Linked DNA regions of Homo sapiens: regions 1 and 3 are each linked to region 2. The links come from fine-mapping of genetic effects on plasma protein levels. A gene starts in region 2. Each other region holds a variant in brackets. All regions are shown on one strand. Distances are from middle to middle.

Region 1 (11,192 bases), 1.4 Mb before region 2:
CTGGGAGGCGGAAGTTGCAGTGAGCTGAGATACACCACTGTGCTCCAGCCTGGTGACAGAGTCAGACTCCGTCTCAAAAAAAAAAAAAAAAAGCTTAATTCTCGCAACAAACATGTGAGGTAGGTAATAGTATTTTTCCCGTTTACAGATGAAGAGAAATGATTAAATGACTTGTGTAAGTTCAAACAGCAAATAGAAAACAGTGAAATTTGAATCTTGACAGTTGGATTCTGAGCATACAGTCCTAAATACTATACCACACTACCCCTCTGTTTCAGTAGTTATGTTACCTTTTATATATTTCACTAGCCATAATAATAAATATCCATTGACCTTCTTAAATTAAAAAATTCCCAAAGCCAAATCTAGTTATTTTAAAATTATATATAATCTACAACCCAGAAATTATATCTCTAATATTCTTAAAAAAGTTGCACTCTGCATTTATGCACCAGTAAATACTAACAATGATACATGTAATATACATTTTTTATTATACTTTAAGTTCTAGGATACATGTGCAGAATATGCAGGTTGGTTACTTAGGTATACATGTGCCACAGTGGTTTGCTGCACCCATCAACCCATCATCTACATTAGGTATTTCACTTAATGCTATCCCTCCTCTAGTCCTCCACCCCGCTACAGGCCCCAGTGTGTGATGTTCCTCTCCCTGTGTCCATGTGTTCTCATTATTCAACTCTCTCTTATGAGTGAGAACATGCGGTGTTTGGTTTTCTGTTCCTGTGTTAGTTTGCTGAGAATGATGGTTTCCAGCTTCATCCATGTCCCTGCAAAGGACATGAACACATCCTTTTTTATGGCTGTGTAGTATTCCATGGTGTATATGTGCCACATTTTCTTTATCGGCTGTATCATTGACGGGCATTTGGGTTGGTTCCAAGTCTTTGCTATTGTGAATAGTGCTGCAATAAACATATGTGTGCATGTGTCTTTATAGTAGAATGATTTATAATCCTTCGGGTATATACTCAGTAATGGGGTTGCTGTGTCAAATGGTATTTTTGGTTCTAGATCCTTGAGTAATTGCCACACTGTCATCTGCAGTGGCTGAACTAACTTACACTCCCACCAACAGTGTAAAAGCATTCCTGTTTCTCCACATCCTCTCCAGCATCTGTTGTTTCTGACTGTTTAATGAGTGCGATTCTAACATGAGATGGTATCTCATTGTGGTTTTGATTTGCATTTCTCTAATGACCAGTGATAATGAGCTTTTTTTTTCATATGTTTGTTGGCCACATAAATGTCTTCTTTTTAGAAGTGTCTGTTCATATCCTTCACCCACTTTTTAATAGGGTTGTTTGTTTTTTTCTTGCAAATTTGTTTATGTTCCTTGTAGATTCTGGCAAATTGTCTCTGTTTGCAGATGACATGATTGTATATTTAGAAAAACCCATTGTCTCAGCCCAAAATTTTCTTAAGCTGATAAACAACTTGAGCAAAGTCTCAGGATACAAAATCAATGTGAAAAAATCACAAGCATTCCTATACATTAATAACAGACAAACAGAGAGCCAAATCATGAGTGAACTCCCATTCCCAATTGCTACAAAGAGAATAAAAGACCTAGGAATACAACTCACAAGAGATGTGAAGGACCTCTTCAAGGAGATCTACAAACCACTGTTCAAGGAAATAAGAGAGGACACAAATAAATGGAAAAACATTCCATGCTCATGGATAGGAAGAATTACTTTGGCCATACTGCCCCAAGTAATTTACAGATTCAATGCTATCCCCATCCAGCTACCACTGACTTTCTTTACAGAATTAGAAAAAACAAACTACTTTAAATTTCATATGGAACCAAAAAGAGCCCATAAAGCCAAGAGAATCCTAAGCAAAAAGAATAAAGCTGGAGGCATCACGTTACCTGACTTCAAACTATACTACAAGGCTACAGTAACGAAAACAGCATGGTACTGGTACCAAAAGGTATATATAGACCAATGGAACAGAACAGAGGCCTCAGAAATAACACCACACATCTTCAACCATCTGATCTTTGACAAACCTGACAAAAAAACAGCAATGGGGAAAGGATTCCCTATTTAATAAATGGTGTTGGGAAAACTGGCTAGCCATATGTAGAAAACTGAACTGGACCCTTTCCTTACACCTTATACAAAGATATGTGTAATATTTTTTATAAAATCTGAAAATTGAAAGCAATTAATTTTTTTGAACATTAAATTCAGGGGTACATATGCAGGTTTGCTATACAGGTAAATTATGTGTCATGAGTGTTTAGTGTATAGATTATTTTGTTACCCAGGTAATAAGCACAGTATCTGATAGTTTTTCACTCCCCACCTCCTTCCCAACCTCCACCTTCAAGTAGGCTCCAGTGTCTGTTGTTCCCTTCTTTGTGTCCATATGTACTTGATGTTTAGCTCCCACTTACAAATGAGAAAATGTGGTATTTGGTTTTTGTTCCTGTGTTAGTTTGCTAAGGGTAACGGCCTCCACCTCTATCCATGTCACTGCAAAGGATATGATCTGATTCTTTTTCATGGCTGCCTAGTATTCCATGGTGTATATGTACCAACCACATTTTCTTTATCCAGTCTTCTGTGGATGGGCATTTAGGTTGATCGATGTCTTTGCTATTATGAATAGTGCTGCAGTAAATGAACATGTGCATGTGTATTTGTGAAAGAATGACATAACAATTTAAAAATTAATCATTGTGGACTGAATAAATACATTTTGGTATAATCATTTGATAGAAGACTATTTGGATAAAATACAGTAATACAGTATTTAGATAAAATACAGTATACACATGACCAGGACAAAAAATAAATCAGAGTAAAAGTTAAGAACAATATCATTTACCTAATTTTAGAAATACACATAGCTATATATGCAATAAAAGGACATATAGTTACATTTTGTTGTTTGTTCTAGAAAGGAGGGGAGAGGAATGCAATAGGGAAAGACTATAAAGAATAATGTGGCCTTCAACTATACATGTAATATTTTATATATCTTATATGAAATACTAAATAATACTGTATTTTACACAAAATACTATATAATAAAATATAAATTATTACATATAACATGGAGCAATTACAATGAAAATGCTAGTATTTACTAATTGTGGATGATTGCTACTGGAATTTTGGGATATTTTCCTTTCTACTTTTCCTCGTTTTCAAATATTTAAATTAAAAATAAATTAGAACATATACAACAGAAAAATATTAGACATTTTTACAGTTCATTCTTTCCAAAATGCTTAATTTTAAAAATTATAATAACTACCTAAATGAAAGAAAAAATAACCATTTGTTATCAAGATAATATTTGTAGAAACGAATTAAAAGTCCTTCAAACATTATTTAATCTGATCATTTTTATCACATCATAAAAAGGGCAGGTATTCTTTTGCTTTTATATAATGATGTTATTCTCTTTTATAATATAGTTTCCAAAGTCAATGTACATGAAAAGTAAAAAATATCTTTCCTGGTTATCTGCATAAGATGTGATAACCAAAAAACTTCCAATGTAATAACCATGTGGAACTAACAGCACTCTTTTTCTAAATGTACTGATTTTTCTTTTCAATAGCTTTTTCTCACAAAGCAGCTGACCGTTTTTGGCAAGATTTAAGAATTTTAACCTACAGCTCTCTTTAGCTGTCTGTGCTAGGCATGCATGGCAACAAATGCCTTCTGAATTTCCCTCAAAAGAAGCTTCTTTTTGCCTGTATTTTCTCTTTCTCTTGAGGAAAGCAAACAAACTTCATTTATGCTGTGCCTTTATTTTAAAAGAAAAACCACAGAATGTGAACTATGTAAACTAAATAAATTGAAAGCTATGATAACACTGTATGTAATCTTGACATCACTTTAAGTCTTGCAACATTAAATATAAATCTTGGAACAAATTATTTTGTGGCCCAAGAGAAAGCACACAAGAGAAATTTGTTATTTCCCTTTTTGTGTATGCTTTTGTTTCCATCTGTGAAAAATGGATATTGGTTAGGGGGGACTAGCAGACTAAATTTCCTGTTTCTTCCTGCCTTTCCCCAACTCTATGTGAAAGATAAAAACTCAGAACACGGATTTCCTGCTGAGCTTGCTGCTCTATCCTTTCTGGGAATTTTCCTAATTGAGAAAAAAAGTCCAGATGGAAAAATGTAACCTCCTTTGAGAATTCAATAGGCAATTTAAAAAGTGCTCAAACATTTGTCCAATCTCTTCTCCTAGGTTCTGGCACATGCGAAATGCACCTGATAAAGAAGTGTGATTGGTCTGCTCACCATATTCTCTTTAAGCTCAGATTTAATTAAGAAAAGTAATGTTTTACTTAACACAGAATTATAAAACCATTATTCACCAAAACGATTATAAGCTATTACAAAATTTAACAAAGTAAACACACTTGATTTTCTTAACAATGCCTTAAGATAGCACACAGGATGTTTAAATAACTTTACAAGTGTTAACTCCAACTCTATAATCCTTGAGTTTAACCATTATGAGGTATTGTTTCACTGAACTTTTTAGGACTAAGAGGTTTGCAAATTAATGATCCCTTTTTCTTTGTAGTATGTAAGGGATCAGTTAATACACACAAAACCTTGGGTGAGTGAACAAAAAGAAAGAAAAGACCATGGAAAGGAGA[A/G]GCAAAACTGCTGAGAATAAATTCACAGCCTTGTCCCTGAAAATTAACCCCTGTTGTGCGCACCAGAGTTTTAGAATGTATGGATTTCATTTAGGATATCTGCCTGGACCCCCTTCAAAAAAAGTCAAACCTCAGGGGACAGTTATCTTTGCTTTTATGGTTTCTACATCTCTCAGGACCCTGTTTGCTTCTGCATTGGAATGTTAAGTCTCAGAATTTATACTTTTAACCATTCTGTGTTTTATTCTTTAATGAGCCTTTAATTGTTTTGCTTTTATTTATTTTCTATATTTTAAACTGGTTTTAGGCTTTTCATTTACTAGGCCATTTATTTTAATTATTTTGTAACACATTCTTATTCATTTAATCTTTTATTGCTTGTATTCCATTGAAAATCATTTAATATTGAATCCTGTATATAATATTTTATTTTTAACGAATTTTGTTGTTTTCAGTGTTATTTTAACTCTTAGTATTTAAGTAATTAACTTGAGTTATTTTAACTCTTAAGTATTATTATTGGTGCTGTATTAATGTATATATAATGCATGATGATCATGTATATGAATATAGCATGGTATAAACCACAGAAGTTGAGCCTTTTTTCCCTTCTACTTAATAGAGCGGCAAGCCTTCTATCCGCCTAGGATGGACTACCCATCCCTTAGCAAAAATTGTACTCAAATACTCTGTGATCACCACATTGAATAATTTCATAGGTCCAGAGACAAAATTTTAACTGTCCTGCAAGGAAGGACAGTAGCAAATTGCATAAGAAGTTTGTCTTCTCATACAAAACCATTTCATTTTGAATCTCCCAGGAAAATTACATGTAAGGATAGGTCCATTTTACTGCAATCTCCCCACCAGTATACACATTTGCTGATTTCTGTCTCTTTATGAATTGAGTTTCAGGGATAATTACTTGTGGCATAGATTATCTTATCTCTCTTATTGATTAAGAATGCTTAAGGAACTTTTGACCTCAGAAAGAATTAAGTTTACAATCTATTCCTGCTGTTTCAGACTGTATAAAGGGAACTAAGCCCTTGATGGATCCTGGCCTGAGAAAGCCTGGCTGATTAGATAAGACAATCCTGCCCAGATTTTTTCAGAGTGCACAAGACCAGCTAGTAGTCATCTTCATTCTTTCCTTGATTATAACCTCTGAGCATCACAAAAGTTTCAACTGAATTGACTTATGCAGTTTCTAGACTCTGTTCATTTCTTTAGTTGAGAACAGAATTTCATTTTAGGAAGGTTTCAGTCCTGCAAAGCAGGTACAAATGTAGCTGATTTTCTCTAATGTGTTGTCCTTCTCAGCAGTGAAATTGTATATTTGCCCTCAGGTATATTAACTTGGGCATTATTGACATTTTAGAACAGGTAATTCCTTGTTGCAGTAGGTTGCCCTGTGCACCGCAGGCTATGTAGCAGCATTGCTAGTCCCTATACACTAGATGCCAGTACACAACTGCCCCTGATGGTAACAACTGAACATGTCTCCAGAATTTGCCTAACATTCAGTGAAGAACGGAATCATTCCCAGTTGGGAACCATTGTTCCACTTTGAGCCTCACTCTGAAAACCTGACTGCATCTGGGGTGTTCTACTTAACTGTCTGTTCCTATGCTCTGTGTCTCACATTCTCCCTCTGAACTAATTATCTACCTGTGAGCTTTGGGGCTCTCAGGTAGCTTCTCAGAAAAGTTTATTTGGGTATGATATATGGCCATTCTCTCAACTGATTTTCATTTCAAATAAAATAAAATAATAAAATAAATGCCAGTAAAATAAAATACTTGATTAACTAAGAATATCTGCTAATTATGGAGAATAATAAAAGCATAAAGACAAAATTTAAATAGTACATATTATTCATATGTATTTCCCAACTATAGGCATTGTAAAACGTTATTCCATATATTCTCAGTCATGGAGAGCTCTACAGATATATGTTTCTGTTTTTTTTTTTAAATGGATTATATTTTGTCTATCAGTGTGTGGTCTGTTTTGAATGACTTCACTTTTTTTTGTATTCTAATACATTATTTTATTAGCCATGTTATTTAATTGCAAATGTTTGATTAGTTACTAAACCAACAATCTGTTGTTAGAAAGCTGCATCTTTTAAATGATTATAAAATGTCTGAATTTCATAGGCAATATATTTTAGAAGGCCTGTATCTCTGCTACCACATTGGTATTAATAATATATTTTACTTCAAAGGAATTAGGCTGGTCCCAGCTTATGAAGTCAGCCAGGTTGTAGCCACAGATCCATGGACTTCTATATTTTATTACGTAAGTGGCTACATCTTCCAATGGTAGTATGATACTATTAGAAGATTTATCTCCCAGGGAGGACAATTTAAAAGTATAGAAATGTTTACCTGGTAATATTCCCTCTAGGCTACCACAATCTCATAAAAAATTTGTAGAGGCAGAGTAGCATTGGTTGAGTATTGACTAAAGGAGTAAAGGCGCCAGACGTGGGTAAATTTATTCTAAAACAAGACTTAGACCAGAGTACAAGTTCTTCTGAGTGAGGATTGGACTAACTTCTATATATAATATGTACAGTGGTATATTAAAATGTGTCTGTATTGTATTAGAGTTCAAAGATTATGTTCATGACCATATATCTCAATGATACCAGAGTATGAGTTCAAAAGAAATTGAATACACTTTGTCTTTTTTATTCTATATTCCTTCTGATCACTTGAATTTTCAAATGTCTTCTATGAGTAACTAAGTTTGAATTTTATATATATATCATTATTATTATTTGAGAATAGAGTATCACTCTGTCACCCAGTCTGGAGTGCAGTGGCATGATCTTAGCTCACTGCATCCTCTCGGGTTCAAATGATTCTCATGCCGCAGCCTTCCGAGTAGCCGAGACCACAGGCCTGTGCCCCCACACCCAGCTAACTTTTGCATTTGTAGTAAAGATAGGGTTTCGCCATGTTGCCCGGCTGGTCTCAAACTTCTGATCTGCCTGTCTCAGCCTCCCAAAGTGCTGGGATTACAGGTGTGAGCCACCACACCTGGTCTGAATAATAATTTTTATTCAAAATATTTTTTTTGTCTTTATTAAGTATATATTTGTGTTTTCACTAATTTTTTCTAAGAGGAACCAGAAAAAAAAAAAAAAGACATTGGTCCATGCTTTTTGGAACTCTGAGGAAACATGGCTCACTAACAATCACAAAGCTAATGGTTTTGTGATTATCTATTTCCCTTTGTCTAATAATACAAGACACATCTACAAAAACAAGAATGGTTAGCAGACAGAGAGTTTGACTGATTTTTGGTAAGAATCATAAAAATATTGCTAACAGATAATCTCTATTTTAGACATTTGAAAATAATTTCCTGTAAGTTTATAAACATTTTATTAAAATATTTTTACTTACAAGTTTCTTAGAAAAAACTTTAAAAAGTATGAAAAAATAGCACATATACATATCACATAGACATATTTATTAAGCACCAACTATATGACAAATACCGTTCAAGGATTTAAAAAAACAGCAAAGGGCAAGACAGATAAAACCACAATAAAGTGAATTCTACCAATGATCACAACTTTTACTCTGAAGGAGGATTACAACAAACTGAAGAATGTCTCACCTTTTGATATATCTCCTTTTAAAGCTGCTTAGAAATAAGTTATTCATGTAAAATTCTGTTTATTTATGCCTTTTAATTTATAGAGAGTCAGGTTGGTGTATCTTGGGGAGGTTTTCACTGGTTATTCAACATCTAAAATGTAAAGAAAAAATTTTATTCATCTCATATTCAGATTTTTTAAAAAAAAATTTAAAATTTGAATCCCATGGTGAATAATTATATTTTTATGTCAATTTCTAGTCACTTGCACTTTACAGTTTATGATAGTAAACTCCTTTAATGACACTTAAATTTTTTTTCTCAGTTTTATAGGCAAAACCTGGCAAAATTTTAAATTTGCAGTCCATTGAGTAACAGCGAAGTTGAATATTAATTTTCTTATTGGATATTTTTCTTTTTCTTTTGTGAATCGTTATTTATGTTCTTTGCTTATTTTATATTAGGTAAACATATGTACATATATTACATATGTTACATAAACTTACGTATATATTTTGCATATATGTATATATACACATAAGCTTAAGGATAAAATGCAATATTCTTTCTATTATTAGATACTATTGTCCTAACACAAATCTGTATAATGATAATAGTAGTATAGTAATAATAAACATTATTTAATACCTAGTACTGTTGTATCTTTTCAAATAACTATTTTAATCTTTAAACAATCCTCTAAGGTAGCTATTGTCACTATTTTAAATCTAAAGAAATTTGAGAATTATTAGAAAGCTCAATTAAATTGGCCAGAGTTTTAGTACTTACTGGCAGTAAGGAGCCAAGCATAGTTTAAACTCAAATCTGTTACTCCTTTGTCTGTAATCGTTCCAGTGGGCACTAATGCATCGACACCCACTATGCAAGTGATTAGAAGGCAGAGAGTAAGTGACATTTTGATTCGCATTGGCAAGGCCCCTTCTGTCATCATGAAATTATTTTTATAATCTTTCTTCTTTTATTATGTTTTTATTTCTAACCCAAAGGACTGATGTTGTTTGAAATAAGAAGTGTTTGGTTGGTTGAAGTCTTTGTTTGGAGAGGAGAAAACTGGAATGTGATCAAAATTTGTAGGAATAGAGAAGAAAATGGTGGTCCTTCGAATACTATGTTTCTTCAAATTCTATTAAAATGATTCATGCTTGCTCAGAGAACAGGGATTACTTGTGGTTAATTACTGCCCTCTGTTGACGACATGATATATAAATTGTAATTCATGTTCTAAAAAGAAAGTTAAAACTACAAGAAAACTCATTTATGAAGATTAGTAATTAAACCTCAAAAAATTCAAGTGCTTGCCCAAACACCTATATAGCTAGTTAATTACAGGGACGACTGAGACTCCAAGTGTCATAAGCTATGATTAGTCTCGTGTTGACTAAATTAACAACAGTGTTATTTTTGGCCTGAAAATATTTTCCTATTTTCTGAGACTCAAAAACAAAGGTTGTAGTACTCAAAACAATTCAAAATACATTTTATTCAAGAAAAATTTAAATACAATTTATATTCAGGTTAAAATAAATTATGCAGTACAGAAAAGTGGGAAGTGGAAAATAAATATATTTTTCTCACTCTCTACTTGATCCCAGAGGTGACAATCACTAACTGTTTGTTGTTCTGAAATGAATTCTAAATGCTTAGAATTTTTTTCAAAACTAAAATACTGGTCTCTAACTTTTTTAAAACTTAAAATATATGTCTTAGGGTTTATTCCATATAACCACATAGAGATATAGCTTAGTTTTTAATATGACTGCCTACTATTGACACTTTTGAGGATTACAGGCATGTTTAGAATGCCCTTAATTTGGAGTAACTTGTTATTTCCACATAATTAAATTCAGGTTATGCGTTATCTTCTAGGATTATTACAAAAGTGAGGTTGTTTTGTTCTCATTTCCTTCCACCAGGGGGCACTTCATTTTGGTTTGTCTCGATCAATGTTCACTTCGATCACTGGATTAAGGTGTTTCAGGCTTTTTCATTGAAAGCTACCCCATTTTCCTGCTTCTGTGTACAAGAAGGATTTGAGTGGCAAAAGTGCTCAGCTAAGATAAAAAATAAGTAATTACCCCGTCAAATCCTTTGTCCCAAGTAACAGGAATAATGGAATGGATCATAGAATGTTAAGCATTATTTTCCCAAAAGTGCTGAGTGTCCTAGTTTGATTCTAATTCCTTTCTAAAGGAACATACAAATAAATGAGGTATTTGTACCAGTTGTACAAGGAGGGGAAAGAACCTTTTCCTATATACGACAATTCATTTAACTCAAATTTGTTAATATATAAGTCTATAAACAACACAGAAAGTATAATCATGGTTCTTTCTATTGGCAGCTAGGTGAATATTAGAACTGATGATGGTTTTGTTTTTCTTAAAACATTTACTAAGACATAGTCATTTTTAAATAATATTAAAGTTTCGGTTTCATTTGGCTATTTTAAATTTTCATATTCATAATAAATTTGCAATTTGTATTTGCATTTTAATAAGTAATTTTGAATTCTTTAGAAGAAAAAACTTATTGAAAAGATGATGTTTAAAAATGTTTAAATTTAATTGAATTTACATTTTTGAAAAAATATTTCAAATTGCATGCGCTTAAATACAGTACAACAAAATGATGCAATGATCATGCTTGCAATATAATTACTGGTTTTGCTGAAATGAAGGCAAGGAAGATCAATATGGAATAAACATATACTTATGAATTATCTATGTATTTTCATTTATTATTAATCCAAGCATCATAACCAATTAACTAAATACCTAAATATGCAGAAAAAATGTATTTGATGTGTCTAAATATTTTGTCAATTTTCCTAACATAAAAAATACAGCTTTATAACATATCTTTCAATTGTCTTTATGAAATATATTTGTCTAAAT
Region 2 (10,988 bases):
TGTTTTTGGCATTTAAAAACAATTAAGCCTACCCTCAATGATTCCACCTATAGGAACACGACAATAATATGTTTTGAACAAATAAGTAATTGAGAAAAAATTGAACAAAATGTAGTTACTCAAAATTATTCCATCAAAGAGGAAACCACTTATTTGAATATATAGTTTTGACATATTTAAAAGCATAGGGGTATTAAATTCACACAATATATTGGGATTAAAAGAATGGATTCCAGAACCAGACTTCCTGGATTAGCATCTTGGCTCTGGCATTTACCAAGTGTGTAATCTTAGACAAATCAGTTTACTCATTTAAAAAAAACATATGAAAGTAGTACACATTCATAAGAATGTGATGAGGGTACTTTCTGTGTGTGTATGTGAGTGTGTTTGTGTGTGAGTGTATAGTACCTAGTATGCACGAGCCCTATTCTAAGTTTATATATGTGTACATGTGTGTGTATAGCTATGATTATTCAGAAATGCTTTATTGTTTTAATTATAAAAAAACTACAATTATTTTTTCATAACAACTTTTTTATACTAAGAAAATCAACATATGTAGCCCATTTCATAATTCACCATTAGATACACATTTGCTGAGCAACTAACATGCCAGGAACTGCATCAGACATTAGATATTTAATATTTCTCAGATTTTATTTTGAGATGATTGAAGCTCTCTGCATGACACTTTTTAGGGCTAACTACTTAAATCGCACAGTCAAAAACCATTTCTGAGACTACTTTAATTGTGAAAGACTCTCTTCCTCTTCTTCACTCAACCCCATTTTTTGCCTTTATCTATGCAAACTAACATTTGCAAGCCAAGCTTTTTCTTATAAGCTTTTGGGAAAAAAAATTATCTCTTGGATAGGGATCCAAAATAAACAGTTCAAATAAGATAGGCTTTGGGAAAATGTTAATAAACTTGACTCTGGCAAATTATTTGAGTTTCCTTGTGTTTCTTTCACTTGGCAGGGATTTTAATTTGGAAGTTAAAAAAAAATGAAGAAAAATGTCCTAAGATTTCACACATGGATACTTTTATTATAAAATGATAATTTTCTTATAAAACCACAACTCAAGGTTGAAAATTGGGGGGGGGGGTTAATTTAAACTTAAATTATATAAAATAGATTGGACAAATAATGATATTGCCAGAAAACTTTGAATCATCCATATTTGACTAGAATCTCAGCATCTCATCAGTCAACAGGTCCTTACCAAATGTCTGCCCTTTTGGACTGCTTGCTAGGTGCTAAAGAAACAGTGACCACCAAAACAGACGCAACTCTTTCCCCGAGGAGCTTCCAGTCTTGCAGAAAACATAAAGTAATAATTATGAGCAAATTATTATAACTATCAGAACATAAATGAAGCACTTTTGGAATGCAGCCATTCAATATGATCCATATTTAGGTATTCTTCTTTAATATTGTAAAATATCTTTACCCAAAATTTTGGTGCCCATTGTCCCTAAATTCTAAACTTTTGAGAAGAAGAAATGAGAAGCATTATCCTTATTTCTAGTGAAGCAGAAGAAAAGTTAACTACAGCAATGTAGTGGTGGGAATAACAGTGAAGAAAGCTGACACACACCGTGATGGGTACATATAGGCACTGGAGATGTTGACTGGCTATCACTGCTGCTGTTGTTTCCTCTGGTTGCCTTGTCATACTTTCTTCTTAATAACAGCTAGGAAGGATTTTGCTAACTAGTGGGCTGCAATCATTAAGGACTTGGTGAAATTCCAAAATCCACAACCCCTAGGAATTTTCCTGGATCCCCTACTTGGAGAAACATTGTAAGCAACTTACAGCACACTAAATCAGAAAGGTTGGCCTGTAAAACCATTTATGTAATTCCTCTGCTTTTGTTTTGGGGAATCTTCCAAAAGACGTGTCTAGAGAATCAGATATAATTTGAGCAGAGTATGCTAACGTGGCTTCAACAATGATTTTACTTTTCTCGTAATTTTGTACTCAACAATCATTTTTTCCAGTGATGTGTCATGCTGTCCCAGTTGACTGTCTGGCCATATTTTGCCCTGGTGTTTGCTATAGCAAAAAGTGCAGCTATAAAATTATCTTCTTCAGCTTGATGTTAATTTCGATGAAATCTTCCAAGATGTATCTTTTTTCACCTCTAAATCTATGTGATAACAAAAGATCAAACAGTTCTCGATCATATTTTGAATGGGAAATATTGGTATCATAAAATAATTCAAGAGCCTTATTTTAGCTACTTATTTCTTTCTAGTTAGTCATCATAACAAATAACCAGCGAATGTACTTTTTTTCTCCCCTTCCTCTCCATAAAAAGTATGTCACTTGCACAACTTCAAGTTAGGAAATGGGAAGGGTCAGGGAAATCTCACACAATCCTACCCAGTTTGATCACACATTACCTCCAACAGCTAGCCTTCAGCTGTTGATCTAACACCGCCAGCCACACCCTAACTAAAATTTTAGAAGTGACTGTTTTAGCTGGGCACCAGGATACAATCCATGGCGACACACCCCTGATGCTGAATCTAGGTCAATGTGGTTGTCCACTTTGCAGCTAACCTTGCCCTGAACAACCAAAAAATAGATTACAATTTCTACACATAAAGGGACCACTCTAGAATACTATTACCTGCCTTGTATGTCTCCTTAGCATGCTCAACTAAACAGATTGAAGTTCCCACAATTCTCATGGGAATTGAAGCTAATAAATCAAGCAATAAAATATAAAGCTTTAGACATTTGTCTTACATTACATGTGGGGTGTCTGTATTTGTGGGAAGGTAAGGAATTTTCAGTATTTTGATTTGTATTTTTTCTTTTTTTATTTGACATTTTGCACAGTTTTTTCCTTTTAAAAATTTCACTGTAAGGAAATTGAGTCAAGAAAAATGAAAACAATTTAAACAAAAAGTGTGATAATTCCTCTTTGAAGCATTTTAATTTCATGATGCTTATTTATATGTCATTTTTTTTCTTTTTACCCTAAAATAAAAATAAATTAAAATTATGATGCATTTCTAGTTCAATTATTTCAATTCATTTTGAAATTAACTTTTGGCTTTTCTGTCATTCTCTTTCATGATCCTTGGTAAATTACCTGTATTTCTTTCTATTTTATAAATTTTTCTAATGGTCTCTGACTTGTAATACTTGTGGTGAACACAGAGTTTGACTGCTTTCAATTTATTTCCTAACTAGTTCTATTGTTTATTTTTTCTATTTTATAAATAAATTCATAACATCTGGAAGTTTTTTAAATCGATTATAAATCCAAAGACTTCCTATGCTGGAAAGAGTGACCTTCTTTTTTAAGAGTGATGGAAATACTGGAAATAATTAACTTATTGAAAATTACCATGAGTTCTAAAGGATACAAAGGAAATAGATTACTTCAAATGTGTTTTTCTGGATTAAGTGTTTCATATTTTAAATCATTCGCCATTTGATTCTTATTAATTTCCTACTATGCACAAGGCCATGTAATAGCTACGATGGAGTATAAAATGAAAGATAAACCTTAGTTTTTCCCTGGAGTAGCTTTCAGCCTAGTAAACGACATAAAAAGATGTAAATTAAAATAAACTAAGAGGCATAGGAAAGGTAAGGTAAATTAGAAGAAGAGCAAAATGATTTTAACAGGGAGGATCAGAAAGATTTTGTAGATTAGTTGATCTTTGGGTAGAATCTTCAAAATAGGATTTGAACATACAGAATGAGGAACAATCATTTTAGACAGAAAGACAGTATATGCAAAGGTATAGAAACCCAGAAATGTAGAGTAGGTATTGGAAAAAAAAAAAAAAAAGAGCCATTTGATTTACTAAGAAGATAGTTCTTGGATCAAGATGAATTGCATATCAAGAATTATCTAAAATAGTGTTTTGTATCCTGCTGGGTTTGGGTTGAGAAATAGAGAGAGTGGCTGGACATGAAATAATAGAAATCAAATTATATTAATCTATTTAGTATTATTATCCAAAGGTTAGCACTTTGAATAATCAATATGGCATAATTTTTATGTGAAGACTTTCTACTTGGACTAGTTTATTTTCATGAGTCATATGTTTCACCTTAATCACTTTATGAAATATATCTGATATCTATAAAATAAAGAGGTGAAGAGCAGAAACTGATCCATGGTCTGGGTCCTATATTGATTTTTTTAAGAAATGCTTATATTATTAAACACGTAATATTTTAAATACTATTTAATGCCATCCTAATTCAGTCAGTCTTCGTTACATTGATCAGTATTCATTATGTACAAGGGACTGTGTTTACTACTGTTCATGATTTTTAAAAGTGGGTGAGGGTAGGAAACAAAAAAGGTTACAAAGAGGAGTAAAATAAGTACATAAAGAAATACAAAACAATGCTTCTAAAACGGACATTGCCACAAGAAAGCCAAGACTCCAGAGGGCAACACTTGAATCCTTGGGAACGAAAGGAGACTATTTGCTGTGGCCTCCTTCCTCCAAGAACATATACCAAGAACATACCTAAATGTAGAGTTCTTTAAACATGATTTAATGTACAGACAAAAATGAAGGCTTTAGACAATTTAGTAGACAATTTAATAGTCATGGCAAGTTAAACACAGAAAGGTCTGTTTATGTCTGTTTATTTTAGGCAAGGGAGCCTGATGAGGAGGCTTTCAATTTTTGTGTACTTAAGAATTATTTGGAATCAAAGATCCTAAATCTGAGCCCCCATTGTGTATCTGAATAGAAAAGATATTGATAGGAATTAAAAATCAGTCTCCATTTGAAGCATGTAGATTCCCTGTTTGGCTTTGACCTATTTCATGTATCTATCAGAAGATCGTGATTTGGGCCTTCCTTTTATCTTTACACAGAATTGGCTACATCTGAAGAGCTGTTACAGCTGTGTTGGATATTGCTGAAAATTCCTAAGGATGACTCAGATGACAAATTATATTTGATAGAGAGTCTAGTGGGATTTGCAGAGTGGAGCTTCAACCCTGAGAATGATTAAGTTAACTGAAGACTCAACAGGGAACGCCTGAGCTGCTTCACGATGTGGCATCCCAGTTTCTGTGTCACCCCTGTGGTAAATTTATAAAGTAATCACACTATTCAGGAATGAGATTAGGTAAGGAGATGAATTTCAATTTCCTATGAATTTTCAAATATAATTACAATAATAATTATGATAGTAAATAAAGCTATAATTAAAATATAAGTATATCAGAACTTCGTTCAAGAGAACATGCTTACAATACTTCAGAAAGTTTCACAATTCAAGTAGAGGCTTACCAGTAGTTTCCCTTTCAATGATTAATAGTCTGTTATGTTAAATAAGATTTCAGGTGACATGTTTATGTCTACATAAGCAAAAACTCATAGCTACTTATCTACTTATGTGAAGCAACATTGATATAACAAATACAAGTTATCTTACATGTATATTAAGGAAGTTTCCTAGAAATTTTTACTTGCTTGAATTTTTGTCAGCTTTTAAAAGTATATACATACGTATTTAATTATACATATATATGTGGGGGGTATATAAACATATACACACGCAAACACACAAAAACACATATGTGAACTCTTTTGCATGCCCTAAGATTGTACTTCATTAAGTGTAAAGTAGTGGACTTTTACTTAAATACAATACTGAAAATTACTCAAAGATTAATGACAAGACAAAAATCAGAATGGTAATTTTTGTAAATTGGCCATTAACTCCATAACATTATCATTTTTTTCATCCTTTCACAATGCCTCATTAGAAAACATACAAAATTAAGTGTCAGATTTGTATTTACCACACTTCTAAATTGCGTAAAAATATCTTTACCACAATCAGTGATTAGTGGAAAGCATGGTGAAAATATTTGTAAAGTGTGCTAGTCAGTTCCAGTTGCAATGAATTATTTTGAGGGTCATGGAACCTCTTTGAACTTTCTGTTCAATCTTGGGATACTTCCCAGCTGCAAAACACAAAGACAAAAATTCAGAGCCTTAGCTTTAATAGCAAAGAATAGGTAGGAATCAAGATACTCAGTTTTTTCTAACTAAATTTTACTGGAACTTTACTTTACTAAATGTCAAGAAAATATGGATTTTGTACAAAAGTGAAAATTTTTAGTTATTTACAATTCCAATGAGTAATTTTGAGAGTCATGTAACCTCTTTAAACTTTCTGTTCATTCTTGGGATACTTTTCAGTTGCAAAATACAAAGATAAAAATTTAGAGCCTTAAGTTTAATAACAAAGAATAGATAGGAATTGAGATACTTCGTGTTTCCTAACTAAATTTTACTAAAACTTTATTTTACTAAATGTCAAGAAAATATAAATCTTGTACAAAAGTGAAATTTCCAGGCTAAAAAGAAATGGTTATTAAAATGGTTCTATAAGAAAAAAACAAGGGGTCAATGAACTCTACCTTGGGGACTAAGGGGAAATTAAAGAAAAGGGTCTTGAAGACTTGGTCATATAATCACTCAAAAACTGGACTATCATGTCCCACTGCCAGTGTAATTTGCCTCAATCCTGGACATATCTATGGTTAAATATGTTTAAGTCCTGCAAGTACAACATGACTTTTTCAACCATATTTTTGGCTCTACTATGCACATACTAGTATTTGTTCAAATTCTTTTAAAGGAAACACAACTCTTCAAATGTGGTTTTACCTTTATCAACTGAGTGAACTGATCAACCTCTCTGGGAATAATAAAGAAGACCTGCATTGTATTTTACAGTTGTATTGGTAGTTCTATTATCACAAGTAGTTTTTAAATGGCTTTACAGTGATTTGAAATCTAGAAAATGTCCCTAAAAATAAAGCATCTTGCTGGCTTCAAAAAGAAAATCACACATAAAGCCGCACAACAAAGGGGAGGGGAGAGGAAAGAGAGAAACATTGAAACATTTCTGTTCCATGTGTTTTCCATGGTGGAGATAATTGATTTTCTTAGTGCTGTTGTAGAAAGCGCTGCTGGCATTCACTGGCCTACTGAGTTCATCACAGCTGTGCTTGTGCATCTCTCTCAAGCTCCACTTTCCACTGAATTGGAAAAGATTTGAATTTTTGGTTGATAATCTGCCACACCCTTGCTTTGCCTCATCTTTCCAGGCACTCTCTTTGTTAAAGGAGATCCAGATTAATCAGTGCTTTAGTTGGTGCAGGTATTTAGATTTGTGTTAAAGCTCCAAATGCAATCCAAAAAGCAAAATGACATGTTTATGTGTCCTGGTTAACATCAGTGAAGTCAGGGAAGTATGGGAAGAAATGTGTGGCTAGATAACAATGAGGACAGCAGTTCCTGGATGGCATAATAGGATTCAGAAGTGTATGCATTTCACCTAGTTCAGACCCTGTATTAAGAAATGCTTTGACCCCGTATTAGGAAATGCTTTGACAGGAGGTAGAAAAATAGGATCTGGGACACAGAATGCAAAGGATCCTAGTGCAAAACCTCCATATTCGAGGTAGTGAAGAATCGTAAATCAGAATATCTGGAGAATGAATTCTCTAGGTCTCTCCTGAAGACCTTAAAATACAACAATCCTTCCATATGCAAAACATCAGCTAATGTTTCTTAAGTGAGTGCATCAATCATGAATTTTTCTCATGAGTATAAGGCTTTTATTTGAATAGCTAAGCAAATTAAGAATTTTAGAACAATAGTAATTTTATTTATAATGCCTAAAATAAAGCATAACAAGCATTATTTTAAAAATAACATTTCTAATTTTTCACAGTGGAAAATAAATCTAATGAAGAAATTCAATAAATTTCAGCTTTTATAGACCACCTAAAACAATGAGAGAAATCTAATATAGATATATGAATTCTACGTAGATACAAAGACATCATGAGAAAAACTATGTTTCTGAATTGGTTTGAACACAGGAAATATTTTTTGTGTACAGGACAAAGATGTCTGAAAGACAGAAAGATGCATATAACAGCCTTTCCCCAGCATCTCTACTGTGATCCAGTAGAAAAGCTTATATTCATGACCATTCTCAACAGTTACTTTTCTCCCACGCCCCCAAGCAGTGACTCTCCAATCTAAAATAAAGATACACAAGAGGTTGGTCTCGTTCTAGTTTTCCTTTCCTGTCATCAAATGATGTCATCTACATTGAGATGTCTTGGTTTGTGTCCTTGTGACTGAAGATATAAGAAAGCTTGGGAGGCCGAGGCGGGCGGATCACGAGGTCAGGACATCAAGACCATCCTGACTAACACGGTGAAACCCCGTCTCTACTAAAAATACAAAAAATTAACCAGGCGTAGTGGCGGGCGCCTGTAGTCCCAGCTACTCGGGAGGCTGAGGCAGGAGAATGGCGTGAACCCGGGAGGCGGAGCTTGCCGTGAGCCGAGATTGCGCCACTGCAGTCTAGCCTGGGCGAGAGAGGGCGACCCCGTCGCAAAAAAAAAAAAAAAAAAGATGCAAGAAACAAGAAAGCAAGTTTGCCACTGTCCATGCTTACAGGATTCATGTACACCTGGGAATATACATATGACATGAGTTGAGTGAAAATTTAGTAACACAAATTAGAAGAAAGAGAAAGATGAAAATTAGTTTAAAGGAGGTAATTTACTTAAGGAGGAAAGTTTTGCATTGAGGCATAAGGAAGTGACTTCCATTAATTGGTGTGAAATGGGGAGAATTTTATGTGCACAGGCATAGAGACGGACATGTTTAGGTGAAGGTGAAGAAAATTAGTTCAAGTGACCTTGATTAGAATTGAAATGTCCACCGTAGATTATAGAGATAGATGAACTAACTATGAACTGATGATTAGGGTGTAAAGAGATATCTCCATTGCCAGATATAGCCTTATACTGTGGACAAGCATATTTTTCCTGCAGAGATTTATCAAAGACCTATAAATGGTATTTGCCCCTCTTTCAAATATGACACAAAAATTACTGCTTAGATAGATCCAGAAATACATTGGAAAGTTTTGTGGATGAGGATCTGGAAAGTATACACATAAAAGTCTAAATTAGAAATATTTATACTAATCTTTAGAGTAATGCAGAAAAAATGACCACTTTCTCTGGTACTCTTTTGCTATTCTATGTGATAAACTCTTTCTCTTCCAGTTTCCTAAAAAGTTATGTCATGAAAAGGCTGAATTTTTCTCTAGAAAAATCTGCTCTGTCTTTCCCAGGCAGCATAAAAATTGGAAATCTCACAAGAAAGCACTCTGGCTTGCTAAAGAAATTTGTGAGAAATGGAAACAGCTATAGATAAGTATCTAACTTTTAGGAAGCCATTCAAACATTGCTGAAATACTTTGTCTTTTGATATTTGCCTGAAACTTAACTTCTAGGACCCAGGGTGGGTGGATGAGTCGAAGGGGCATACGGTGGCATTTCTTTCCGTGAGTCTCTTACAGTCTCCTATTTAAATTGAGTTAGGATTACTTCTGGCAAAATCCCAACATAAAAATCTTCTAGGAAGATCAGTTCTGTAAATTAGACATACTAGATAAATGGGCATCAAGCAGTTTTTCAAAATTATGCAGTTGTTAACTTCATAAGGGGAAATAAAAATGTATGCATTTACATTGTATGTATTAAAACAAGGCAGAGCATTTCTATACGTTCCTAAGTTATACAAACATATATGTAAGAGTGAAATATGTAAAAAAACTTTTACATAAGCAGATGCATACAAACTCCAGATGTGCTCTTTTTCTTACTGTGGGTTGTGTCTTCTATAAGGGAAAAAGAAATATTTATCATTTCTTTTACTGCTGAGGGGATGGGTGCGGCTCTCATATTTCAGAAAGGGGCTGGAAAGTGAGGGAAGCCAAACTTTTTCCTATTTAAGGCCAAAGCAAAGGAATCTCAGTGGCTGAGTTTTATGACGGGCCCGGTGCTGAAGGGCAGGGAACAACTTGATGGTGCTACTTTGAACTGCTTTTCTTTTCTCCTTTTTGCACAAAGAGTCTCATGTCTGATATTTAGACATGATGAGCTTTGTGCAAAAGGGGAGCTGGCTACTTCTCGCTCTGCTTCATCCCACTATTATTTTGGCACAACAGGAAGGTGAGTAGGTACTGATTTCAAGAAACTTTATGGGATTTTTGTCTTTCTTCTCCTCACAAAGAGGGGTGTAAAGGGGAAAATCAGTTGCCTGATTCAAGATAATTTCCTCTATAAGCTCCAGATTGTGAAACGTTGAACTGACCATGGCTGTGCTTTTTACATTACTTGAAAAATAATCGCGTTATGTGTGTTTTTAAGAGTTCTGTGGTTAAGATAAGATGTTCTTGTACTAACTTGTTTTCATGTTAAAGGCACTGGAAACTTTTAAAAATGGCTTTAAAATTTTTCCCTCCTGGATTGTTAACATCTTGGAATACTTCCCCAGGCAGTCTGGAAGTTATTGGTCTCTTGCAATAATTTTATGTTCCTCTTTGTCTGCTGGATTCTTTGTAAGGTTAGAATATTGAGCATTGTTTTCTGAATAAGAATGCCTTTCAAATATCATGGATTAAGAACAGTCTAAAGGAAGATTCTACGCATTATCAGAATCATTGAATATATTTCTGTAAAATGGCTACAAGATACCTATAAACATTCTTCAAAGGGATCAAACTGCTAAAATATTTTATTATTCCTGTTTTTATTTTGTTTCAAGAATGATTGATTAATTCATCTTTTCTAGTAGCTTGATATTAAGGGACTAATATTTTCCACATATTCTACGTTTTAACCACATTCGCATTAATGAAGAAAATATTTTTTAAAATGTTTCAACAGGAGGTTTGACTTTGCTGCAAACAAGGTAAAGATACTAGTACTGTTTGACTTCAGAAAGCTGTTTTGCTATATTTTCTAATAATTGCATGTAATGTTTTTCATATTCTAATTTCCCCTAAAAACACATTTGTCTCATTATTTATGTGAAAATATTCTTTTATTTACCATAGTCATGAAAATGCTGAACAAATTGGAATACAAACTTCCATAGAAA
Region 3 (11,192 bases), 1.1 Mb before region 2:
CAGTGAAACCCCGTCTCTACTAAAAATACAAAAAAATTAGCCGGGCCTGGTGGTGGGCGCCTGTAGTCCCAGCTACTCGGGAGGCTGAGGCAGGAGAATGGCATGAACCTGGGAGGCGGAGCTTGCAGTGAGCGGAGATCGCGCCACTGCACTCCAGCCTGGGCGACAGAGCAAGACTCCATTTCAAAAAAATAAATAAATAAATAAATAAGTTATATAACCTTACAATTAAATAAATTATACTAAAATTGAAATACATAGTCAAAACCATCATTTCATAATTATTTTACTACATTTAACAGTTATCTACGTTCTTGGATTTATTTGTTGTTGATGTAAGGAAAAAGTACCGTGTAACAGCTCACAAACTTCCTGAAAATTTAACAATCAGTTGTCAAAAGCTGAAAGGTGGTGGCTTCAGCACACCACTGACTATCTCCATTAATCAAATTCCTTCCCAACTCTGGGTTCAATGATGACTCATTGATAGCTTGGAATTGGATTTACACTACCGAAATAAGCAAAAACTGCAGTTTGGTATTTAGATAGCTGAAGATAATCATCATTCCGTTGCAAACCTATAGGGCTATTTCACATTTCTGTAAGCAAACACAGAAACTGTCTGCTAACTCTGAGTTGGCAAATATATGAAAACTCCAGTTTCAAACGTGTTATAAATCAACAGTTATATCATTGAATTAGCTTAATAAATTATGTAGGACATAATGTATGTTTGTTTGAATTCAAATTCCAGAGCTTGTCAAATAGCTGGGATTTTATCTAATAAATGTTGTAAAATACAACTAAGTCCAATAAAAGATAAAAGCTGTACTTGGAAGGCAGATAAAACTAACTGAATTTCACAAATGGCAGTATCACCAACCACCTATTATTTAATGACAAAATATTCATTAAAATATGGCAGGATAACTTAAATAGCTAAAATTGATATATAAGTAGCATTTGGAGTAATACTTCTCCAATGGACAGATAAAAAAATTCTTCAAATTACTCTACTAAGCTATGAGTTTTGTTTTTTTTTTTTCACTAAACTATGATTTTGAGTTTTATCCATTGAACCTGTATAAAAATCTTAATTTCTTCACAATTATCTTTACATATTGTTCTAAAGAATCTGATTTATTTTAGTGTTATTCTAGTTATAAGCATCTAAGTCATCATCTCACTGTCTATAACCTGAGAAGGAAAGAATCATATTTGTGACTTGCTGTTAAGTTTAATTATCAACCTGCTAGACAGAATTGCACTTACTGCAAGTGTAAAAGTCCCTTGTTAAGTTAGCCTGCTCTTCCACTCAAAGGAACACTGTCACTTCCAAGACTTGCCCTTCTAACTGCAGACTGCTGGATCTTTCCTTAGCAACACTTCCTTTTCTACTCTGTTGGGTTCTCTTCACTTATCAAAATTAATTCTCAGCTAACCTGGACAACACTGTGATGTTTATTTCCTTCAAAATGATTTGTACCCCAGTAAATTATAACCATTCAGATTCCTGCTTTGCACACAGAAAGCTATTCGTTCTTATCCTTTTTCTTTTGTTACTAATAGAATGCATGCATTGTTTAAATTATCTGCCTAAGCTTTTTTAATAGAGTAAATAGTACAGTATAGAATTTATTTTGAAAAATAAAATAAAGGGTCCAGGCTTTTTAAACATACAAAAATTAAGAATACAGAGTGGCCAGTTTTCAAACAAAAAAAGCATTGCCCTCCAAAAAGTCTTTTAGAAATAAAATTTAAAAATACAACTATTGTTTACCTACTTTTGAAATAATTATGATAATTATGTTGGATGTTAATAATAAATAAATTCACTCTAATTCAATTCATTGGCAATGGAATCATCCTATTTCATCCACCCACCCTCAACAAGTTTTGTTCCAACATTACGCACTAAAACAGAATCTCTTTTACAGAAGACTACATTGTTTTGGTGTACTGTTATTTTGAAACCAGAGATAGGAATGCAAAACAAGTCTATTTAGAATGGATTGTCAAAACAACATCTGGTTTTGACAGATTTTGCTTAAATTGCTGATTGTTCAGCATCTGAAATTACTTTCCTCTTAGTACTTTTTTTAATATGAACATGAAGTTTTCCACTAAGACATATCATAAATAAATAAGATTCATTCTCTTCTGGCCTTTTCAAATGTGAATTAATTCAAAGACTCTTAAACAGAAGAAAAAGAACACTAGATCATATGCCTATTACACAAGTATCTAAAACCTCTAGGGTCAAACTTGGAAATCTGTTCTTTTTTCTCATGTGAATAAATCTAGTTTAAATGTGTGTGTGTGTGTGTGTGTGTGTCTTTATTCACTTTTTACATTCATATTAATTTCAATTTATTGAAATAAAGATATTAGCAGGATATTTGTATTATCTTTTCATACTACAGTTTTTCTGCTTAACACACCAATAAAATAGATGTTGCTCACTGACAGTGTACCATAGCCACTTAGAGTGTGCAAAATTTGCATGCATTTAGTTATCTGAACCTATAAATATATGAAAAAATAAGCACTGTCTTGGTTTTTATTTCCATTATAGACAGCAAAAAAAGATATAAATAGGGCCATGGTACAATGATTTAATTATAAGAGGAAAAAGCTTTATCACTGGAGAAACACTTGTGAAGTTTACAACCCTGAGACACAGGCCTCCCAAAAGATCGAGTTTTAATCAGCTTATGGAAGGCTCCCATTCTACCACACTATTTTACCATACCAACGGTGCTTTCATATGATAGCTGTGGGTTCTAAAGCTGAACTAGCTGTAACATACAGACTATCTAGAAGAGGTACTTAGGAAAAGCCCAAAGTCAAGAGCATAGCTAAAAACAAAGACACTAAAGGAATTTGAAGACTCTAGAACTGCAATAAAAATAAAGAATACCTTTCTTGGGTTCATCAGTAGACATAACACAGCCAAGGAAATAAGCAGTGAGCTTGAAGGTAACTTAATAGAAGCTTCCTAAACTGAAAGGCAAAGAGAAAAGGAATTGAAAAAAAAATGAATATGAATATTCACAATAATTTCAGAGGATGTAATATATGTGTGAACATAATATCAGAAGAAGAAACAAACAAACAAAAAAACAGAAGAAACGGAGAGGAAGAAATATTTGAAATAGTAATGGCCAAGAACTTTTAAAAATTAGTGGTAGACACCAAGTCACAGATGCAGCAAGTTCAGAGAACATCAAGCCGAATAAAAACCAAAAACCCCACAGGTGGGCGTGTCATTAAAACTGCAGAAAAATAACAAAGAAAAAACAAATTCTTACAAGAAGCCAAAGGAAAATACACCTTACTTATAGAGAAACAAGGATAAGAATTATAATAGCCTTTTGTGCTACAATTAAAAAGACACTTGGTCTTTATCCCTCGTTCCTGGCACAGAGCTGCTAAATCCCTTGGAATTTCCTGAGTGATAAGACTTTGTTATGCTAGCGAGGTTACACATATGAAATATATTGTATTTTATATGCACACACGTATTTACATGTATTTATTTGTATATATATGTGTATGTATGCATATACACATATACACGCACATACACGCACACACATTTTTTTTTAAACCAAGTCTCCCCTTTGTTAATTGAGTACTATTTCTTCACATCTACTGTCTTTGGTCTGGAACTGCCTCCATATAATATATGATAAACATTAGTGAGAGTAAATTACTAAGATTTCCAAATAAGACTACGTATATTTGAATAAATGTTATTTTTTTAAATGATGTACTTAGGCGTTTATGCATTTCTCCATTACTCAATATGTTTTCAGACTCTTTGGTAAGCTCTACAAATGACTTATTACCAATATAGGAAATCAGACTGAATATTGGATCTCTCACCTTATTTTATTTTTTTTCTAAAGGCTACATGCATAGCCTGATAACCCAGTTGATTCAAATAACAAGTTCAAACAAAATTAAATATGGCTGTCTGAAAGGTAATTTTTACCTTGAAATATTTACCTAAATTGGAGACATTTAAAGTAATGCGCTACAAGTTTTTTGGGCTAGTCCCAAAAGTGAGTTTTAAGGTACATCATATTAAAGTATAAATAGGAGACACTTTGGTAGCTTCTGCCAGACCATGTTCTCTGCTGCATGCCTTTTCCATCCCTGTAGTTAGGGTCCCCAAAACATGATGTTTGTACTATATGCCCATGACCCCTTACAAGTGATCATTATAGAAACAGATAGACATCCACGGTAGGATGAGATCAAAGATCAAAATATGTAATCAGAGAATTCTAAGTAGTTGCATTCTACTATGTAAAAGATGCAAAGTTGATTAGTGTAAAAAAATAAGATTATAGAGAAAATGTCTTTTATTAGTTGTCAAAAAGACTTTCCAGTTCATTGCCACAGATGCTGCCTTAGACCTGGCCATTTCCCTATCCTTAGGTTCCATGATATTCTCCAGCAAAATGTTGGGGCTCAGCAAAATGATACCCCAAAGTATGGTGCTTTGACTTGTTGAGTACAACTCACTCTTGAACAATGGAGGACTTATGGGCACTAGCCACCCACACAGTGAAAAATTCACACATACATTTCGAATCCCCTAAAATTTGACTACTAATAGCCTACTGTTGACCAGAAGCCTTCCCCATAATATGAACAATTACCACACATTTTGTATGTTATATGTATTATATACAACATTCTTATAAGTAAGCTAGAGAAAATAAAGATGTTATTAAGAAAAACATCAAAAAGAGAAAATATGTTTACT[A/G]TGTATTAAGTGGAAGTAGATTATCCTCATCATCTTTAGGTTGAGTAGGCTAAGGATGAGGAAGAGAAAGAAGGGGGGTAGGTATTGCTGTCTCAGAGGTGGAAGAGGTAGACGAGGTAGAAGTGAGGCAGAAGAGGCAGATATACTTGGTGTAATTTTTATTTTTAAAAAATCTGCATATACAAGGACCCTTGCCATTCAACATTGTGTTGTTTAAGGATCAACTGTACTTTGCACAAAGGAAACAGCCTCAGAACCAAGGTCTCTCTGACCTTCTCCCACACCCGCTTCTCATGTTTTGCCCCTCTGCCTCTCCTGAAGCACAGAGAGGAGCTTTTCCTAAAATTCCCTTATCTGGCTAAGGAAAATTCCTCCAGAATAAATGCAATTGTCTTGGGTCCCGCCCTTATAATCTCACCAAACAGAAGATTAACTCTCAGGAAGGAAGTCTAGAGTTGACACCACACACAGAGCCATAGAAATTTTGTTCCAGGCTATTATCTGTTCTTTGGGCCTATTTATCTCCCCTAAAAATTATTTACTCTTCCTCTAAAATTGCCTACATTCCCCACTTCCCTCTTTCCTATGAAGAGGGTATTTAATCTTCAATCATCTGGCCCATCTTTGAGTTTTCATACTTTGTGTGACTCCCATTCACATGAGAGAGTGTTTTTCTCCTGTTGATCTGTCTATTGTCAGTTTACTTCAGCAGACTCAATTATCAACTTGTCAGAGAGAAAGTTTTAACTTTCCTACAATAACATAATAAATCTTTCCTTACGTGTTAGGTAGTTTAGGCTATCAAGTTGCTGCCCAAGTACCTTGACTAATTCTATCTTCATAGTTTAGGTAGTGATTTAGACCATTGCTATCAAACAGTAGTTCATGGACAGGTACTAATCCACAAAATATTTGATACTGTCATTGATAATATAAGGAAAATGTACTAGATTGTAAACCAACTATTTTATGACTTTAAAGCATTTTTTAATGGCAAAACTTTATCAAAGAAGGAAGTGGTAAATTGATTTATATTCTGGCATATGCTCCTTATCACCTTTCAAACCTATAATAAACAGACGACATAAAAAATTGAATTAGTAACTTAGAACTGTCTCATAAAGATAAGCCCAAGCCCAGACACTTTTTTGGTAAAGTTTACAAAAAATTAGAGATGAAATAATACTATTTCTTCACATGTTCTCCCAGAAAGAGAGAGGAAGCGAGGAATACTTACCAAATTATTCCAGAAGGCCAGTATTACCCTGATACAAAAGGCAGACTAAGATGTTACATGAAAATAAAAACACAGATACAAAAATTCTCAATGAAATATTAGCTAAGTAACACATAAAAAAGATTCTACACCATGGCCAACTGAGATTTCTTATGGTTATGTAAGGTCAATTTAAGATCCAAAAATATCAATATATGTAATACACCATGTTTAAAAAATATAGGAGGCCATTGTTTTGGACGAAGTGCCTATATTAGGCTGTAACAGACCAGACTAAAAAGCAAAGGACAGTCACGCAACCCAAACTAAGTTGTCTGGCCATCAAAGAAATCAGGAGAAATAGCCAATTTCCTGAACAGACCAGTTTAAATACTTCAATGGGCATAACAATGAAGTTCCCTGTGTTCTAATCCTTACACAAAAATGGTAGCTTTAAGTAACCTGATGTTGACTAATCAGTTATTTTCTATTGTTCTGTCCACCTGTCCCTGCCTTACCAGAAAAGCATCTTTGAAAGGAATAAAATGCTCTTTGTTCTTTGCTTCTGCTTTCTTCAGTTCTTCCCTGTCTAAAGAGCCAACCCTTTTGGTTCAGCTCATTGAAACACTTATTCTATTTTATGGAATGAAGTTTTGGTGCTTCCAGAATTAAAAACAAGGCCAACTGAAATACTTAAACTAAATTTGTTGTAATTTTGTCTTTTGATAGCCATTTTGGTAGAATAAAGGGCAAGAACCACATGATCATCTCAACAGACACAGGAAAGTATTTGACAAAAATCTGTCACACTTTCATGATAAACTGTCATGGAAAACTGGAAATAAAAGGGAATTTTCTAAAATTGATAAAGGGCATCTATCAAAAATGTAGGCCAGTATCATATTTAATGTGAAAGACTGACAGCTTTCTCTCTCATATTAGGAAGAAGGCTAGGATGCCCACTTTTACCAATTTTATTTAGTATTGCACTGGAGTTTCCAGTCAGTACAACTAGGCAAGAAAAGGAAATCGAAGGCATCCAGGTTGGAAAGGAAGAAGTAAAGCATTCTGTTTTTATTCACAAATGACATGATCTTTTATATAGAAAACCCTAAGGGGATCCACGCAACCCCACCCTTATCAAATCACATACACACACAACTACCTATACTGTAAGTTCAGCAGGATTTCAGGATAGAAGATCAATATATAACTGGTCATAATTCAGTTACTTAGGATAGCGCTAATAAAATATTACTGACTACATTGTTTTAAAAGTGCTTTCAAACAAGATGTACAAATTAAGATTTTGTTCAGCTATCTATTCATTCCAAGGAAATTTCTGGATGCCATATTTGGGAATATTCTACTTTAATCATAAAATTTAAGCCATGCATATAATATCTACTGGAGTTGTGTTTATACTATTTTTATAAAATTATATATACACACACATGTGTGTATAATGGTAAAATACATATTTTACATACATATATATGTTACCATAAGTAACATAGAGGCCAAATAAATAAATGAGAAATGTTTTTTCCTTTGGTTTACATCTTTAACATTTATTGACAAATACTAATTTTACATATTTATATGTATAACATATTGTTTTGAAATAATATATGTTGCAAAATAGCTAAATCTGTTTAACATATGCATTATCTCACATACTGGAAAGTTTTAATTATTAATTATAATAATGTTATTTGCTATAATTGACTATAATTCAAAGTCTTGCTAAAATATTCACTTTGGTCCTTAAAAACAGCTCTTTTTTATATTTTGAGAACTATCACTTTCATTTTTATTACTAGAACAGGAAGAATCAATGTAGGGTTTATATGGAAGAGATTTTCAAGTAGATCAGTCTCTGCCAATATACATACCTCTGTAGAGTCAGCAACTTTCATGTAGACACATTTTGGCTCGGCAGTTTTTCCCAAGAGTCAGCACATATTTGGGGAAATCCATCCCCATTTTCTCTATAACTGAAGAAAATTTGACCCAATAATGAATCAAATAAAATAGTATATATTTTTTAAATTTAGTGGAAACAAAATTTAAAAGTGATATAATTGATAAGTAAGTTTTAAATTAAAAGGAAAGAGGCATTCAAAAAAGATAATCTTTCACAGTTGTATTTGATACACAATATAATTTTGCAAATGATAATACTTTTGTATAAATGAGGGCTCTATTGGTTTCATTAATTAGACATTCAATCAACTCGTTAATTTCCTAGGATATACCAGGTGTTGAGTTACTGCTTGAGATGCAGAAATGAAGAAGACATAGTCTTTGCAATTAGGGCATTCTCAATGCACTTGAAAAGTCATGAAAGAAAATCAATATCTACAATATTGTATAGTAAGTGCTATAGTATAGGAATGAATAAAATATGATGGGAGCAGAAGTAAAACTGGGTATGAACAACAGTGCTCTTGAAGGAAATTTCCAGAAAGATTTGGAAATGGTTACAAGAGATAAAAAACGTAAAACAAAGCTACAATAAAAAGCATGGGTCAAGTAGATGTAGAAGAAGATTATTTCCAGATAGAAGTAACAGAATATGGAAAACTAAAGAGATAACCACACCTCCTCCAATCATTTAAGCTATGCCTACTCATATACTCAACTGAACGAAAGGGTGATTTACACACACCAACCATTTTCATGTTCATTAGACTGGACCTTCACAGGTGTTCTACGTAGTTCCTGCTGATACTCTCTTTACTTTGTGAATTTGTGGTCCTATTTTGCTTCTGGCCAATATATTTAAATAATTCTGTCTCCCCATCTTATTCAGCTTGGCCAAGAAAGTTGGCTCTTCAGAACCCAGCCCAACAGTGTTTGTCACCCCAGGAAAACTTGGTATTAACATTCCTGTGAGAAAAGTGGTAGTAGATGGAATGGGTGTAGGAGAGTGGGAGATGTATTAGTTGTATTAGCCGAGCGCATGCAGCTGGTAAATATTTACATATCCAAGACTGGGGAATTTATGAAGAAAAGGTGTCTTAATGGACTCACAGTTCCAGGTGGCTGGACAGGGCTCACAATCATGATGAAAGGCTAAAGGCATGTCTTACATGGTTGCAGACAAGAGAAAATGAGAGCCAAGTGAGAGGGGTTTCCCTTTATAAAACCATCAGAGCTTGTGAAACTTATTCACTACCAAGAGAAAGCATGGGGAAAACTCCCCTATAATTCAATTATCTTCCACCAGGTCCCTCCCACAACACGTGGGAATTATGTGAACTGCAATTCAAGATGAAATTTGGGTGGGGACATAGCCAAACCCTATCTTTCTGCCCCGTCCCCTCCCAAATATCATGCCCTCACATTTAAAAACCAATCATGCCTTCCCAACAGTTCCCCAAAGTCTTAACTTATTTCAGCATTAACTCAAAAGTCCACAGTCCAAAGTCTCATCTGAGACAAGGCAAGTCCCTTTCACCTATGAGTCCGTAAAATCAAAAGCTACTTACTTCCTAGATACAATAGACCTACAGGCATTGGATAAATACACCCATTCCAAATGAGAAAAACTGGCCAAAACAAAAGGTCTAAAGGACCCAAACAAGTCCAAAATCCTGTGTGGCAGTCAAATCTTAAAGCTCCAAAATGATCTCCTTCAACTCCATATCTCACATCCAGGTCACACTGATGCAAGATGTGGGTTCCCATAGTTTTGGGTAGCTCTGCCCCTGTGGCTTTGCAGGGTACAGCCTCCCTCCTGGCTGCTTTCATGGGCTGGTGTTGGGCGTCTGTGGCTTTTCCAAGTGCACAGTGCAAGCTGTTGGTGTATCTACCATTCTGGGGTCTGGAGGACTATGGCCCTCTTCTCCCAGCTCCACCAGGCAGTGACCCCCAGTGGGGATTCTGTGTGGGGGCTTCAATCTCACATTTCCCTTCTGCACTACTCTAGCTGAGGTTCTCCATGAGAGCCCCACCCCTGAGGCAAGCTTCTACCTGGTCATCCAGGCATTTCAATACATCCTCTGAAATCTAGGCGGAAGTTCCCAAACCTCAATTCTTGATTTCTGTGCACCCATAGGCTCAATACCACATGGAAGCTACCAAGGCTTGGGGCTTACATTCACTGAAGCCACAGCCTGAGCTGTACCTAGGCCCTTTTCAGCCATGGATAGAGTGGCTGGGACACAGGGCACCAAGTCCCTAGGATACATACAGCAGTGACCTGTGACCAGTAATACCACAGTTAAAATAATTTTAAAGACAAGGATCTCAAATTTATAGATGATAAATATAAACATTATACAAATATGAATACAAATATGATATATACAGAGAATATATATAATAGCATAGTATTTACATATAAATTACATATATACACTATTTTCTGTATTTTATGTTCCCTACAAATGATTTTAGAGTTTCCCTTTTTTACTTAAAATTCTAAAATTCTAAAATTTTATCCGAATTTGTCTTGGTGGAAATCTAAAAAATGATTATTCCCACTTGGCATTCAGTGTGGACTTTTAATTCAAAAGTTCACATCTTTTCTCAGCTCAGGATATTTTTTATGTTACATATTTTCTTTCTTTTCTCCTTTGTGATTGTTAATTCCCTGCCTTTGTGGCATCTATTAAGTGAATTTTGAAATCAATAGACATGTCCATGTGTCAAACATCTTTCCATAACTTTCATTTTGTTGTTCTTTTGCATATATTCTGAAGGAATGCCGTAGTTTTTTCCTAAGATCATTAAAACATTTTCAGCTTGGAGACAAGTAATCTGAGTTTAGAAATCATCTATGAATTTGAGATTCCTGTCTTTAAAATTATCATTTTAATTGTGGTATTCTTGGTCACAGACAATAAAATATAATTTCACTGGCAATAGCAATGGCATATAGTGATATACTAATGATCTTCATATGCTGTATAAGAAGAGAAGCATTAATTTCTCATCTAGTTTGTACATGTTCCCATTCCTCCTCTAAACAAATAAACCAAGACCCAATAATTTTTGTATCATGTTGGTTGTTTCACAATTATGTTAATCATAGAACTATTGTACACCTTTCAAATTTTCTTTTTACATATTAAGAAATACAATTTTCTCAATTTAAGGTTTCAAAAATGTAGATATTTTTTCTTTGAATGTTACATGTCTTAGAAGTGAAATACAGTCCACTAGAAAATGTAACCTACCCAAAGTTAAGAA

Alleles and levels. Positions count from the first base shown, and alleles are read on the strand shown. Strength reflects both the effect of a copy and how common the allele is.
For the plasma level of the protein whose gene starts at base 9,862 in region 2, allele A in region 1 goes with a lower level than allele G (moderate association).
For the plasma level of the protein whose gene starts at base 9,862 in region 2, A is the low allele of the variant in region 3 and G is the other (moderate association).

What was found. PIP is the posterior inclusion probability: the model's chance that the variant is causal. The UK Biobank Pharma Proteomics Project read protein levels with antibody pairs (Olink). The fine-mapping took linkage between variants from a reference panel, not from the people measured, so its PIPs are less certain.
Region 1: its variant is fine-mapped to the plasma level of the COL3A1 protein (UK Biobank, PIP above 0.99).
Region 3: its variant is fine-mapped to the plasma level of the COL3A1 protein (UK Biobank, PIP above 0.99).

The regions. Positions count from the first base shown.
Region 1 is chr2:187,571,386-187,582,577 of GRCh38, forward strand. No RefSeq gene overlaps it. Among named protein-coding and RNA genes, the nearest start is that of TFPI, 23 kb to the left of the region's middle. The variant A/G (reference allele first, on the strand shown) is at 4,663.
Region 2 is chr2:188,964,512-188,975,499 of GRCh38, forward strand. It overlaps COL3A1 (collagen type III alpha 1 chain), which reads left to right and starts at 9,862. Exons shown (of 51, transcript NM_000090.4): 1 at 9,862-10,057. The coding sequence starts at 9,979. LOC105373791 (a long non-coding RNA gene) reads right to left here. Exons shown (of 3, transcript XR_007087614.1): 2 at 5,836-5,968; 3 at 1,947-2,155.
Region 3 is chr2:187,876,272-187,887,463 of GRCh38, forward strand. No RefSeq gene overlaps it. Among named protein-coding and RNA genes, the nearest start is that of TFPI, 330 kb to the left of the region's middle. The variant A/G (reference allele first, on the strand shown) is at 4,778.